Linked DNA regions of Homo sapiens: region 1 is linked to region 2. The links come from fine-mapping of genetic effects on gene expression. A gene starts in region 2. The other region holds a variant in brackets. All regions are shown on one strand. Distances are from middle to middle.

Evidence for each region.
Region 1: its variant is fine-mapped to the expression of ACOXL-AS1 in atrial appendage (GTEx, PIP above 0.99).

What each region holds. Positions count from the first base shown.
Region 1 is chr2:111,158,165-111,163,164 of GRCh38, reverse strand. The region is part of intron 3 of BCL2L11 (BCL2 like 11); the gene reads right to left. Among named protein-coding and RNA genes, the nearest start is that of BCL2L11, 40 kb to the right of the region's middle. The variant A/G (reference allele first, on the strand shown) is at 2,182.
Region 2 is chr2:111,112,592-111,118,116 of GRCh38, reverse strand. It overlaps ACOXL-AS1 (ACOXL antisense RNA 1), which reads left to right and starts at 2,529. Exons shown (of 4, transcript NR_122074.1): 1 at 2,529-2,597; 2 at 3,819-3,978. It overlaps ACOXL (acyl-CoA oxidase like), which reads right to left. Exons shown (of 18, transcript NM_001142807.4): 18 at 1-501. The coding sequence ends at 301.

The DNA of each region.
Region 1 (5,000 bases), 45 kb before region 2:
CATCAGGCTGAGACAACTGTCCCCTCAGACCCCGAATGGCCCCCACAGACACCAGCCGCAGCTGCAGCTCCACTGTTTACACAAGCTCTGCCGCGCTTGTTTGACAGAATGGGATTGTGATAAGGCCAGGGCATTTCCCCTTTTCCTTCCATAACAAGATTGGAGGAAATCAGCTTTATGTAAGCGATTCCTGTAGAGGCACTCTGTAACCACAGTCTGTGATTTTTATCTGTTTTACACACAAGATTGCTTTGTTTTGATTTAACTTTCAAAATTACTTTGCTGCCTCTGTGTGAGAATAATTTAGGGGAAGGTTAATTTTAGTGTAGACTAATATTAATAGGTTGAAAGAGACTTATTCAAAATAAAACCACAACTTACTAAAATGAAGAAAGTGTACGCTATGATGGGCTAAGTAATCAATCCAGGCAGAGTTGTTTTGTGCCAACCTGGTGTCATTGCCATGCTTGGTGTGGCCAGAAAATGGGGCTGACTGGGTGTCCACAATCATCAGGACACCAATGAGGGGGCTGGGTCAACGTGAAGGACAGACCCCAACTGCTGACACTTGGTAAGTTTCATATTCCAGCACTGGCAGCGTCCAAGGGAAGAAATCTCCTGCCCACTCTTTGAGGACAGCAGGAGGCTGTGACCAAGCTTAAGTAGAAGTCACCTCACAAGAGAATCTTTCCAAGGTTTTTAGAGTTCCACTTTCATCTCAAATGTAAAGGATATGGGGTATTCAAAGACATGTTGGAGAGGGTGGGGAAAATGCAGGAAATTTTGGCAAAAGTTACACCCAATCCCTGACTCATGAGAAGATGCTACAGCATCCCAGTCTGCAAGTGTGCGGGGATGCCTGCCCTCTCAGACGGCGGGCATGACAACATGGCACACGCTTTTAAGCTGACAAGCAATTGCTTTTGGACGACATTCAACAGAGGAAGCCATTACCACGGATTCAAAGAGCCGTGCCAGCCCAGAAAGCATTTGACAGCTGGCACGGCCGGCTGGAGCTGCTGTTGGCTCGAAGTGTATGCCCGTATTGCAAAAGACAGCTGGAGGATGGGCAGCCCCTACCTCTGTAGACTGGCTGCCCTCTAATACCTGCAGCCATAAAAATTACTGTGGCTTATAGTCGGGGCCTGGTGACACTAAACTGGGGCAAGTGGCCAAAAGCTGCAGTGGGGCAAAGACGCAGAACTAGGACTGATGGCTCAACGCTGCTCAAAGCGCCAACAGCTTCAGCCAGCTCCAGTGAAATCTCCCTGCGATCTAGATACTGAGGAACGGCTGCTACAATTCAGCTCCTAAACCAGGGCCTTTGGTTTTGGGGTGGTATAAAGGGTCAGGAGGGAGTCTGAAGCAATTAGAGAAAGCCCCCTAAGATGGAATTTACTGGTGAAAGGTCAAAGTAAGGGCACACCCAGTGGCTTCTGGCCAGGGTAGCACATCCAAGATGGAATTGGAAAGTCAGGACTAAAGATGACAATCCCTGTATTGCAGGGGAGTTGCCAGTTAAAGGCAAGTATGACACTAAGACTGAGCCAGGAGCTGTCATTTGCAGTGTGAGTGGTTCCTCGCATCTAACATGGGCTAAGACAATAAACACACCCATAAGCGGATCATCAGCAGCCATGCCTTGACCGTCTTCCTGAGACCTGCTGTCTGCAGAGCTGGCCTCCCGCCTAGTGTCCAATAAGTCTGCGTCTGCTACAGTGGTTCTTAATCAGGTGGAAGAGGCATCTGTGAATCAAAAGTGCATTTAAGTTCTGCCACTCCCAAACTGGGTAATATAAAAAAGACAGACTGTCTTTCCTGATTACAAGCGTTTTTTAAAAAACTATTAAAATAAATACAATCAGGGAAGATGCTCCACTCCCTCCTGAAACTTCTGGGTATCTTCCTCTTTATGGGCTGAACTGTACACTGTGTCCCCTCAATTCATCTGTTGCAGTCCTAACCCCCCGGACCTCAGGCTGTGACTGTAAGTGGAGACAGGGTCATCAATAAGGTGATTAAGTTAAAATGAGGTCACTGTGGGGTGGGCTCTAATCCACGGTGTTCTGGTAAGAGACAATCAGGACACAGAAACCCACGGAGGGAGACCACGTGAAGACACAGGGGATGACAGCATCTACAGGTCTGGAGGCTAAGTCTGCACCATGATCACAGACTTCC[A/G]GCCTCCAGAACTAAGAAAAATAAATTCCTGTTGTGTGAGCCACCCAGTCTCTGGAACTCTGCACAGCAGCCCTAGCTGACTAATACACACTTTCACTGATGCTCTCAGTCTGTCACTCTTTAAGTGAAAACAATCCTTCTTACAGAGTTGGGTAACTCTGTTTTAGTCTAAATTGCAAAAATACTTTAGAAAGGTATAACAACTCATTTGGGTGAAGGAGATTATTTTTAAAGACCAAATTTGCTAGTAAGTTACAACTGAAGTGACCATATACTACAGTTCTCTCCTCTCTCACTTTCTCTACGCAGACACACATACACACAATCACAAGTGCACAAAGAGGAGGGCCCCACCCAGTTGGGTACTGTAATCTCCATAGCCTAAATCAAGAGCTATATGAGGACTGGGTTACCTGGAGGTAACTGCCTTTTGTGGCCATCCCATGTGTCCAGAAGATGACTCCTTCAACATTCACAACCTTGTGTGTCCCTCCAGGAACCAGTTCCTGACAGCCCCTGCCCCTCTCAGGGTAAGGGGCTCCAGTGGCCCTGTTGCTGACCAGCATCAGGTGGGGGGCCTGACTTCAAGGCACGTGTCTGTGTACCCACTAGGTCTGATGGTAATAGCTGTGTCGCCAGCACAAAACAGTAAACAAGATAATAAAGTAAGGACAATACAGAGGCAAATAAAATGAGAGGGAAAAAAACCACTGGCCAGAGAGGAAGTGGGGGAGCCAGGGCAGGAAGGCACCAGGGTGAATCCCCACATCAAGCCCCAAAGGAAGAGGAGAATTTCTTGGAAGGACAAGAGGAGAATGGGCAGTGCAGGTGGAGAGAGAAGCTGGGCAGAGGCAGCAAGGCCAACAGGCAGAAGGGGCCAGCAGTTCAGTAAAGATAATCTCAGTAGTGGATAAGTATTTATCATAAACCAGAAGGAAAGATTATGCCAAGTTGCAGGATTGCTCCCCCACAGACTGTGCCCTCTAAGTGTAAAGGCATAGGATTATGTGTCTACAAGTTCCTCAGCATAGACTTAAGCAGTCTTTCTCTGAAGATATGAACAATGCCCTTTGAGACGGTGTCGAGCATTCAACAGGGAATTCCTAAATAGTTCTTCACATGTCCCCATGACACCAGATGGCACAAGCTCATCTGGGTGGCAACCTGGGAGGAGCTGTACCACAGGAATGCCCTAGCGTGGGGTTCCTGCTGCCTTGCCAGGGGCTGGAGCTGCCACTGCAGCGAGGAACATTAAGTGCAGGGCAGAAGCATCTTCAATTTACACTTGGGACGACCAATTAAGTGTCAGGGAATTTAATGACATTCTAATGCCAAAATAATCACAGAACACCACTCTCTTGCTCAGTCCAGGGAAGCAGATGCTTGGAAAACAATAGAGGCCCTGGCCCCAGGGAACTGGTCAGGTTGAACAGCAGACAACTATAGAATGCAGCTTTGGATTCAGCTTCACTCTCCAACAGTGAGAGGAGTCGAACCTTTGAAAAGCTGCCTAGGGCACTCCAGGCCTTTGGACTTTGTGTGCCCAAGCTTGGGGATGGAAGAATTGCCATGGCCACCACTAAATGAAATAACCTAGCCCATGCTTTTCAGTCCCCACAACAACCCTGAGTGCCAGGGTAGCATTCCCTATGCTGTTTTGCAGCCAGTGACTACAGAGGTCAAGCAAGTGACTCAAAGTGCAGCTGAAGACAGTGGCAGGACAGGATGGGTACTCTTGGCCCACATGAAGATGGAATGCCAGAAGCAGGAAAGAAGTTAAACGAGGGCTTTCAGGCCAGCACCTTCCCTCCTCGCACACCCTGTGCCTGTGCCTGTGCCTCTGCTGGGAAGGGCCCGTTGCTCCTCAGACCTGAAAGGGGCCTTGTTTCAGGCTGAGCTGAGGCCACAGAGGTTCTGGAGTGCGAATTGAGAATCACTAAGTGATTCCTACAATGCAGCTCAGAATACAGCCCACTCATCCATGCTCCAAAGGCAGGGCTGACACCCACTGGGCCCAAGGACTCGGTAAGTACAACACAGACCTAGACATAGCATGGCTCAAAGGGGACTTAAATTAAGAAAGCGCAAATGTGTGTAACACAATTTAAAAAAAAAGGTTGAGATCAGACATGACATCAAGGAGTTATCCTGGGAACCAGGGGTGAGATGTGCTGTAAGAGAGCCACAGTTTAGTTAAGAGTTTCCTGGCAGTCAGAGCAACGAGGGAAAAACGACAATTTCATTGTCATATCAAAGCAAGCTCAATTCCTAATTCTAAGAGGCATTCAAAAACAAGGTATACCTATAGAACTCTGAGATGCAGAGGAATTTAACTTACTCAAAAACTTGTTTCTTACAGAATTTCAACAGTAAATGTATAGGATGTCCTGAAACTTATTTTTTATATATATTTAAGTGTTTATATATATACTATAAATTATTATACATTATATATAATAGGAGGCTGAATTTTGGACTGTGAGACCAGGAAGGACAGAGGGAATCTCTGCTCCAGGCTCAGGCAACTGAGGAAGCAGTCTCTCTGGTTGGTGTCTGATCCCCACAGGCTGCAGAAGAGAGGGCCTGGGATGGACATCCAGGAGCCTGAGAATACCCAGGGGCTGTCACGGCATCTTTAGGGACACTGAGGTGGCAGGGTGGGACATGGAACTAGGAGTCACCCCCCTGATTCTGTTAGAACTACCACTCCACGACTCGTTCATAACCCAGCAGTCTAAACAGCATTTTAACTGGCAACTAAGTGACACAGAAGTCAGAGAGAAAAAGGCCCAGCACACAGTTGAGCATGATGTGGAGCT
Region 2 (5,525 bases):
AGCCCACCCTGATTGTCTAGGGGATCCGGCACTGAAGTTGGGAGAGGTTGCAGTCAGGCCAGGCTGGGTTTCAGGGAAAGGGCACAGGGATCCAGCGCACCAGGCGACCGTCTGGATCTCTTTCCTAGCAGCCAGCCGCGCACCTCGCCAGCCTCGGCGGGACCTCCGCTTTGCCACCAAAATCCCCGAGAGTGGCGGCCCAGCGGGTGCCAGCCCCCGGCCTCGGCCACAGCTCTGGGCGTCGGTGGAGCGAGCGTCGTGGCAGCTGCTGGCGGGCCACCACACTTCCCGCCACACCCGTTAGAGCTTGGCTCCCAGCTTGGGCCGCCGGGAGCGCGCCTCTTCCCGTGGCCGCGGCTGCAGCGGTGCAGGGTAGAAAGCCCACGCGGCCCGCGGGTTGGAGATTCCGGCGATTGGTGCGTGGAGGTAGGTGTGTGGAATGTTAAAGGTCGAGATCACCCTCCGGGCATCATCCTTCACCGAGTCGCACAAATCCAGCAACTGCAAAACACAACACAATGGGACAGGTCAGATGTTGGCACACTTACAGCCATCTAGTGACAGCAGCTTTCAGCCCACCAAGCACCCGCACACACAGCGGCCCCGGAAACTAGTTTCCCTTTGGATTCTCCTGTGGAAACTGTTGGCCATGAATAACCCTCGGAAGCCTTTTTTGTTTTAGACATTCCCAACTCTGACACCTAGCCCAGTGGAAACCCCGGCTTTTCCCGTAAGGGGGTGGGCGTGGACGTGGGGTCGGTCGGCTTTGCCCCCAAATTAGCCGGGAACTCGAGACCAAGGTCTGAGAATTTATTAAAGCTCCCTCCTTGGTCCTTCCTCCCTGGTCCTTCCCTCCGCTCCTCTCTCTTTGCCTCCCCTGTCGTCCCCTCCTCTCCACCTCTGGAGTGCCTGGGGTGCCACCCTCTGGCGCGCAGAGGGAACTGAACAGGAAGAGCCTCCGAACAGGTGAACCACTAGAGACCTGCTCCAGTCTCCCCAGACTAGCGCCTTCGGTCCTGACCTGGCTGGCAGTAGGCCATGATTCTTGAAATTCAGTACAGTGAGACGGCGGACCAATGCTAGGCATCTTCCGCCTGGCCGCTGCGGAAAATCCATCTGCTGTTAACGCCAATGCCAAGGAACGCCGCGGATGCCCTTGGTTCTGGCAGCCACTGGAAGGCAGGGATAAGACATTCCCGGCGGATAGGAGAGGGAGATGCAAGTCAGTGTTTTGGAAGCTGCACTGGTGTATTTTTATTTCATTTTCCATGGCTTAGGTGCCAATGTATTTTTTTTTTTATTTTCAGGAAAAAAAGCTACCAAACTAATAAGATTGTTTTTCTAAAACTACACAAGGGCAGAGGGACGGCTTTCTTTTCTTCTGATCTACACATTGTACTCCATTTTTCAAGTTTTCGGCCAGTGGTAAATTTGTTTCACTCCCCAAATCACAGTAAATCCCCAGGTTTTCATGGTTTATTTTTACAGGTTTAACAACATCACTTACACCAGCCCCACCTTTGCCCTCACATGGTGGTCATGTCTGAGCCGCACTGATGTTGTTAAGATCACAGTTTCCCTTGCAGCAGTCCAAAACGCCATTTCAGGTTTTCAGAGCATTTCAGGTTTTCAGTGAGGTCCCAAGGAGGAAGGTGGAGGAAATAGGGGATGGGGAATATAGAGGGTAGGGATATGGTGGGGGAAGAGCATGAATTGTAATAGTCCAACAATACATCTTCCCTGAAAATGTGCTCTATTACACCAGTAATTTCTAATGAAAAACTTCATTCTTCACACACTGTGGTTAAGCATCATCAAATCAGTACTGAAAAGACCTTTGATCGTATTTGCAAGATGCACTAAAATGAACTTTCACTGACCAAGATTTCAAAGTTTGTAATTAATACTCTTGAAAAATCCCTGACTAATCTGTCAACTCTCAACGTCTTTAACCACACAGTTCAAAACCATGAGGTGGCGTACACAGCCCCTAAACTTTCCACATATTGTCATATGATTATTCAAGATAATTTTCCCTTTGGGTTTGCATTATGAAACTCAACCAACTTTGGTAATATATTCACCGGTGGGGGAAATACAATGATTTGAATGAGTGTAAAATAGAGTATGGGTTTTATCTATCTGGTGCCAAAAACAGAACGTAGGGCCAGAGGTAGGAATTAAATGAGGCAGATTTCAATATAAAGAAAATTTTAAAAAAATAAACTTGAAAAGGAACCCAATGGCTGGTGAAAAGGAGGGTTTCTTCACTCATAAGTGTTCAGGGAGTGTGCCCTCCAATGGCACCCTAGAGAAGAAAAATGAACTGGCTGTGAAGAGGAGTTGACTGCCAAGATTCTTTCTAAATCTAAAGTTCTGGAGCAGTTTAAAATACTCCTTCTAGCCTTCTCCATTTTTCCTAGACTGCAACAGAAACCTCAGAATGATTATTGTCTCAATGGACGGATCCGGCATCATTCCTGTTAGTTATTGTTTGACTCTTAGTTATTGTTTGACTCTGATTCCAGGTACCCACCCACCTCTGTTCCTGGCTGTCAAGATGATAATAATAATTACCATCCTTTCACTCACAAATGGTATGCTGGATTCCTACCCAGTGTTAGGTACAATTCTGGACTTTAGAGGTTTAATGGTACACACTACAGGAACAGGTCTCACATCGTGAAGCTGTTGAGGCGTTTTAAAAATTTTTAAAAATATATGATCTCTTTAATACAAAATAAACTTGAGAAGATAATATAGCATTGATTATTACACAGTTACAGTATTTTTATTACCAGGGGGTATTTTTATATGGGGCTAAGCAGTGTATTATTAAAGTTTAGTTTTGTTACCAAACATGCTTCCATACTATAAGCATAAAAATTGCACATAGTGTAGGGGTCCTCTGCCCTGCCAGTTTATGACCCATTTATGCTGGACAAAGTACTTCAAGCTTACCCATATCTTTACAAAGAAAATTCACCAGCTTTTGAAAAAGACAAATGAATAGGTATACTTTAAAAATAAAAAAGTATGAACAAGTTATAGGTTCTTGCAAAAACATTTTTTAAGGTCAAACCTAAACATGGGCACTATTGCTCTACAAGCAATAAGAATGTACAGTCCACTGGAAATAGCCAGTGAGTGGAATTTGAGAATATCTGCTTTAAAGAAAGCAGAAGCACTCAGCCCTCAAGGGATGACACTGTGTTTGACTATATTAATATGTATATTTGGGAGTGAGGGAAAAATTGTAACATCAGTTTGGCTTCCCACCTCCATCTAGTTGCAGTACTCAATTTATTTTTCTGCTCTTTTTGACTCTCCCTACAGTTTCCTTATTTCAGTTGGGAGAGTAGGATGGCCAAGGATGGGCAGTGACTAAGCTTTGCAGTCCTCTGAACAAACCATATTTTCCCAGCATGGCATGGTGTTAGTCCTATAATAGATGTTCAGGGTGGGAAGTGCCCAGTACACTTGGAGGGACACCCCAGCTATTCCTAGGACTCCATGCAGAAGGTTTTCCTGCCTCTTCCCATATGTCTCACCCCTGTTCTCAGCATAAGATGACCACATGCTGTTTTTTGTGAAAAATCCCTTACCCAAACTTGAAATGTCCCTTCATTAGCCCCTTTCGTCTGGCTACCTTGGTAGAGTCTTTTTCTCCATCCCTTTAATCTGGGCTGAGTTATGACTTGCTTTGCCAGTAGAATATGGGGAACATGTCACTGTGTGATTTCCAGAGTTTAGGCCTTAAGAAGCTTTGAATCCCCCATTATCACTCTCCTATAACCGTGAGAATACCTGCTGTGCAGAAGCCCAGTCTAGCCTGCTGGAGGACAAAAGGCCACGTAGAGATGGACCAAGGTGCCTTGGCCAACAGCCAGCACCCACTGCCAGATATGAGAGAGAGGCCATCTTGGACATCCTAGTCCTGTTGAACTCAGATGACTGCAGCCACAGGAGTGATCCCAGGTAAGACTAGCCAAAGAACTGTCCAGGCTGCCTGCCCACAGAATAAGTATCAGTCATTATCACCGGTTAATGCACAGAAATAGAAATTTTTAACCTGACTAAGCAAAACAACAAATAAACTTACTTGCTATAAGGAATCAATTCCACCTCCTTTCCAAAAAGAATCTCTATGCAGCCAACTCTTACTTTCTAAGGGATTGTTAGATATTGGTGAGCCATTAATGTAATTTCCTGTCCATTATTTTTCAGTTGACTTCATTTTAGGTTAACTAGATTTTGAGCTAGAAACTTTACAGGAAGGGGAACCTTAATTAATGAACAAACATCTTTTAATCTAAAAGATGTGATGAGGGAATAAGATTAAAGTGGTTGGTAAAATGAGGTTCTGTGCTACTTGTGGCTGTCATTTATCACCTTTGCTTCTGCTGTGACACATAACTGGCATTCTGGCAGGTGCCTCTGGCCACCTTTATTCCATGCTTGTCTCGTGCAACCCTAGTCCCCAATCAACAATTCATAGCTTGTTACTCCAGCCTTTGCCAAGGATCCATCTCTGCTGTGCAGTATCTATGCTTTCCACATTCCATCCCGGAGGGCCAGGCAGGTAAAGGCATGAAGTACAGAAGGGAGCTACTTAGCTGTCTTTGACTTAGTCTGCTCTATCTCCAGCATCTTTATAACAATGCTATGTGGCAACATATGGCACTTTACATATGTAACCAAGGTCTTCGGTGTTCTGCCCCATGCTGACATTTCCTGGACAACTACTGTGTGCCAGATTACAGAGGAGGGCTTTAGGTTCACTGTCTTATTCAGTACTCATAACAACTCTATCAGGTATCAACCCATTTTACAGATGAGAAAACCAAGGCTTAAAGAATTTAAGTCACATAACTTGTAACTGATGCAACTAGAGTTTTAATCCAGGGCTTTTTTTTTCTAAAGCCTTGTCTACCCTTTTGCCTTCATCTTTTCCCCCAGTGCCTCACTGCTTCCAGTTGCTGGAGGATATGTGGTGCTGCACTGACAAATGCCTCCACCACTGTGGCAGACGTGTGACCCTTGACGTTCTTCCTAAGTCAGAATCTGTATTCTGTGTGTGCCTAGTGTGGAGAACATGGATCTGCCCAGCCACACTGGCTCAGATTCTCTGAGAGGACCAGGGCAGTAATGGTGCCCAGGAGTACTCTATGATGTTGCCACCGGAGGAAGGTGCCAAGGATATCGGCTTCAGAGCCAGCTACCATGTGAAAAGTCCAGCTTGATGACCTAGAAGGACCTTTACCTGCAGAAGGACAAGGCTTCAACTCTGTTCTGCAGATTCTCCTTCAGTAAATTGGGAGTGCCCTTCCACACTGGTCAACAGGCCCCTCCCTGCTGCTTTGGATCACCACCTTAAGTCAAACACAATTCAAGTGCCTTCAAAAGAGCAGCACATGGACTGGCAAATCGTGACTGGTGAAAATGGGCACAATCAAGTAGTTAACCTGCACCTATTCTCACTTTTTGCAGACTTCCAAACTCGCTGAATGCACAGAGGCCTTGGC